Linked DNA regions of Homo sapiens: region 2 is linked to region 1. The links come from fine-mapping of genetic effects on gene expression. Tissue or cell type: whole blood. Region 1 holds a variant in brackets; the other region holds the start of a gene. All regions are shown on one strand. Distances are from middle to middle.

What was found. PIP is the estimated chance that this variant, and not a neighbour inherited with it, causes the effect.
Region 2: it holds the start of CARD8, and the variant in region 1 is fine-mapped to the expression of CARD8 in whole blood (INTERVAL, PIP 0.93).

What each region holds. Positions count from the first base shown.
Region 1 is chr19:48,211,197-48,213,696 of GRCh38, reverse strand. CARD8 (caspase recruitment domain family member 8) reads left to right here. Exons shown (of 14, transcript NM_001184900.3): 14 at 1,722-2,500. The coding sequence ends at 1,987. Among named protein-coding and RNA genes, the nearest start is that of ZSWIM9, 42 kb to the right of the region's middle. The variant A/G (reference allele first, on the strand shown) is at 1,537.
Region 2 is chr19:48,254,314-48,256,960 of GRCh38, reverse strand. It overlaps CARD8 (caspase recruitment domain family member 8), which reads left to right and starts at 1,049. Exons shown (of 14, transcript NM_001184900.3): 1 at 1,049-1,169. It overlaps CARD8-AS1 (CARD8 antisense RNA 1), which reads right to left and starts at 1,286. Exons shown (of 2, transcript NR_040599.1): 1 at 1,167-1,286; 2 at 1-610. RefSeq lists an enhancer at 941-1,180.

The DNA of each region.
Region 1 (2,500 bases):
TACATTATTTAATATAAAGAGTTGGCTGGGTGCAGTGGCTCACACTTGTAATCCCAACACTTTGGGAGGCCGAGGCAGGTGGATCACCTGAGGTCAGGAGTTTGAGACCAGCCTGGCCAACATGGTGAAACCCTGCCTCTACTAAAAATACAAAAACTAGCTGGGCGTGGTGGCACATGCCTGTGATCCCAGCTACTCGGGGGGCTGAGGCAGGAGAATCGCTTGAACCCAGGGGCGGAGATTGCAGTAAGCCGAGATCGTGCCATCGCACTCCAGCCTGGGGACAAGAGTGAGACTTTGTCTCAAAATAAATAAATAAATAAGTAAATAAATAAAATAGAGTTAACACTGAGAGGACCAAGTTTCCATCATCTAGTAAGCAATAAATCCAGGTTTGGAACTCCTTGTCTCCTGATGACTTCATGTCCACGTTAATTTTAAAAATCACCCAAGGCAGCAATCTGCAATGTCCTCTGGATCTGTGTAAAGTCTTGTGTGGCAAATGACAGAAAGTCCAACTTAAATGGAGTGAAATTATCAAGAGTGTCATGGCTCAGGCGAGTTCAAGGAAGAGATGTGGGACTGACTCCAGGGAGGCTGATTCATGGGCTCAAACAACATCACAAGGGAGGAATGTTTCTCCATGTCTTCGTCCCGCCTTCCATATTGTTGGCTTCATTGTCAGGCTCCACACAGTGTAAGTTTCCGAACTCATGTCTCAAAACAGACCACTGGGAGAAAAAAGAGAGCACCTTCTGAGATGGCAATCATGCCATTTCCTAGCTGTTGTTGCCTGGAAGGCCATTGAGGCAGATTAAATAAAAAGAAATCATGCCTCACATCTGGAGGTGCAATGAGGATCAGCTAAGGAGCTTGGTTAAGAATCAGATAAAGGTGACGTCCTAAAATAAATCAAAGAACATCTCTGTAGGTGGTGACTGCAGGCTGAGCAGCACCAACAAAAGGCTTCTACCCTTCCTAAATATAATGTTTAGGATGTGGAGCAAAATATAGCACCTGTTGCCTGCACGTTGAAATCAAAGCTTAGTAGCTCAGTCTACAGGAAGCTGGTCCAGAACATGTCTTGAGTCAAAATCACACCTCAACCTCCATGCATTCTAAACCACGTGATATGGAAGTAATATGATTTGGCCAAGTTTATACAGACATTATATGGGGCACAACGTAAACCCTGAGTCTACATGATGGAAAAAAGTCTGTATCTTTTCCCCTGTTCTTCCTTTTCTATGCATTGTATGTCTCCAGTTAAATCTCTTCTTTCATAGCTCTGCCAGCTAAGCTTTGGGGATCCAGCTGAATCCTTCTCCATACCTCTAGCATCATGCACAGTTTCTGACAATGTATGAACTAGAAGATTTGTGTTTCGTTGTTAGAGGGATTTATATATAAATGTATGTACAGCAAGATAGAGCTCTGTCTAGGATTTCAATGAAAAACACCAACTAGGAAGAAACAGGCTTCAAGAAATGGATGAGAGGAGTAGGACTGAGGAAGATACATTATTTGAGACACCTC[A/G]ATGCATTTGATACTGCAAAGGGTATATTTGCTCTGTGAATGTGTGTGATTTTGTATGTCCACAAATTAAGCTACAGACACAAGGAGCAATCTCCCACCCCTGAATTTTGACTCTAAGCTTGGTATAGATCCTGAATCCTGTAAGTGAACGATTCTCAAAGTCTGAAACTCCCCCTTTCATCCAGGTGCAGCCTTTGTGAAGGAGAACCACCGGCAACTCCAAGCCAGGATGGGGGACCTGAAAGGGGTGCTCGATGATCTCCAAGACAATGAGGTTCTTACTGAGAATGAGAAGGAGCTGGTGGAGCAGGAAAAGACACGGCAGAGCAAGAATGAGGCCTTGCTGAGCATGGTGGAGAAGAAAGGGGACCTGGCCCTGGACGTGCTCTTCAGAAGCATTAGTGAAAGGGACCCTTACCTCGTGTCCTATCTTAGACAGCAGAATTTGTAAAATGAGTCAGTTAGGTAGTCTGGAAGAGAGAATCCAGCGTTCTCATTGGAAATGGATAAACAGAAATGTGATCATTGATTTCAGTGTTCAAGACAGAAGAAGACTGGGTAACATCTATCACACAGGCTTTCAGGACAGACTTGTAACCTGGCATGTACCTATTGACTGTATCCTCATGCATTTTCCTCAAGAATGTCTGAAGAAGGTAGTAATATTCCTTTTAAATTTTTTCCAACCATTGCTTGATATATCACTATTTTATCCATTGACATGATTCTTGAAGACCCAGGATAAAGGACATCCGGATAGGTGTGTTTATGAAGGATGGGGCCTGGAAAGGCAACTTTTCCTGATTAATGTGAAAAATAATTCCTATGGACACTCCGTTTGAAGTATCACCTTCTCATAACTAAAAGCAGAAAAGCTAACAAAAGCTTCTCAGCTGAGGACACTCAAGGCATACATGATGACAGTCTTTTTTTTTTTTGTATGTTAGGACTTTAACACTTTATC
Region 2 (2,647 bases), 43 kb before region 1:
ATTGCACTCAGTTGTTATGTCCTTAGATTCCTCCAGGCTGTGACCGTTTCTTATTCTTCCCTTGTCTTTTGTGATTGTGACACTTTTGCTGAGCATGGCCAATTATTTTACAGAATGTTTATCAATTTGGATTTCTTTGATGTTTTCTCACGATTAGGCTGAGGTCATGCATGTTTGTCTTCTGTGTTCAGTCAATATGCCCCATCCTTTTTCAAATATTTCTTCATGTTCTGGCGTCAGAATTTGTTCCAATGTTATCTTATATATTCCTGCCCCAGCCCTCGAAGTAACCATTTCTCCACAGATACTTCAAAATAGTATTTAGAAACCAAGGCCGGGCACAGTGGCTCACGCCTGTAATCCCAGCACTTTGGGAGGCCGAGGCGGGCTGATCTCGAGGTCAAGAGACGGAGACCATCCTGACCAACATGGTGAAACTCCGTCTTTACTAAAAATACAAAAAATTAGCCGAGCGTGGTGGCATGCACCTATAATTCCAGCTACTCGGGAGGCTGAGGCAAGAGAATCGCTTGAACCTGGGAGGCAGAGGTTGCAGTGAGCCGAGATTGCTCCATTACACTCCAGCCTGGGTGACAGACGGAGACTTCATCTCAAAAAAAAAAAAAAGTAATATTGATTAAAAATCAAATTGCATGAGAATGCATAGCAGGATACCAAGCAAATACAACTTTTAAATATTACAGAAAATGATATTTAAAATACAAACCAAATACATAAATCATGCAGGCGGATTAAGACGTTTCTGGATAGTGGTAACAGCTGAGAGTGGCTGGATGAATTCCAGAGAAATTTCATATATTGCTTCAATTTTATTTAAAATATACTATTACCTATGTCTTAGATATTTTATTTTAAATAATGAACAAGGATATTATAAACTCTGCAGAAGTAAGTGTAATCGTGTTTTTTTCCTGCCCACATTAAAGATGGCCCAGATGCTTGCACTGACCCCATTGACTGCCCACAGCCATCATGGCGACCGGAAGTCCTGAGAGCTTACTTCCCTCAGTTCTCAGAAAGCCCACCTCCTCTGCGAGCGTTATTTCAAAAGAAGTTGAGAACCAGAGAAACCGACCTAAGGGGATTCTCCCATTTGGCCCGTCCTACCCTAAAGTCACCACCTGCTGCTTTTCTGGAGCGCTTACCAGGTGAGTTTCAGGAGCCCTAGTGTACAGGAAGGAGAAACGGAGGCTTGTTGGTAGGACACCGCCAGGCTGCTCTGTGTTCTGTTCCTCTTAGTCAGCAAGGAAGGAGTACGACAAAGTGAGAAGTTCATATGAGCGTGTCAGAAGGGGAAATAGGGCCCCTCCCTTGTTAAAAACAAAACCCTCTGGAAGCTCGGCATCCTGTCATAACTTAAATTTATGACTTCAGTGACTTGGCTTGGACAGTCTTAATAATCTCTCTCACACTCAATTTGTTTTAATTTCTGTAATAATAATTTTTATACCAATGTTTATGTTGTTAATACTAATAATTTTACACTGTAACTGTATAACTTTAATTATTAGAAGTGTTAACCTAACTAACAAACATATGAAAGCTTCCTAAGGGAAACAATTTTTTTTTCTTTTTGAGATGGAGTCTCGCTCTGTGGCTAGGCTGGAGTACAGTGGCATGATCTTGGCTCACTGCAACCTCTGCCTCCCAGGTTCAAGCGATTCTCGTGCCTCAGTCTCCCAAGTAGCTGGGACTACAGGCGTGCACCACCACATCCAGCTAATTTTTTATTTTTTAGTAGAGACGGGGTTTCACCATGTTGGCCAGGATGGTCTCCGTCTCTTGACCTCGAGATCAGCCCGCCTTGGCCTCCCAAAGTGTTGGGATTACAGGCGTGAGCCACTGCGCCCAGCCGGAAACAATGTTTATTTGGGAATAGAGCATTGCAATTGGGAATAGACATGCCGTATTAAACTATGTGTATATTCAGGGAGATAAAGGAAGACAGAAATGGGGAGGATTGCATATTGTTTTAACAGAATTTTCCTTGGCTACAAAGATCAGTAACAAGGGTGACATTAGTCCTAGGTTGGACCAGCAGTTGCTGGGCAGCATTCCTTGCAGAAATATATATTTTTTTAAGGTTGTGAAGACCTTTATGTAAGGTTGTGGGTTTTGTAGAGTCTTTTTCATCTTCAGGCATGCAAGGATAAGAGCCCTCTCTTCATGGCCTTCCTGGCTCTATTTGTCAGGGTTATCTTAACATAAGTGACTCCATTTTGTTCTGACAACTTTCAGATTTCCCCTTGTGATCAAGAAGTTTCTCTGAAAGCACTCTCCTGCCTCAGCCTCCCGAGTAGCTGCGACTACAGGTGCCCACCACCACACCCAGCTAATTGTTTTTGTGTTTTTAGTAGAGACGGGGTTTCACTATGTTGGCCAGGCTGGTCTCGAACCCCTGACTTGTGATCTGCCCACTTCGGCCTCCCAAAGTGCTGGGATTACAGGGATGAGCCACCGCACCAGGCCTGCATTTCTTTTTTCAAAGAATTACTGTGGCATTTTTTCCAATGTCATTGTGTTCTGTGGTTCTTATCTAGTCTTCACATTTATTTACATAATGAACTTTCAATGATGGATTTCTACAGAATTTTTGTCACTAAGTGGTTGCCTAGAAGTATATATC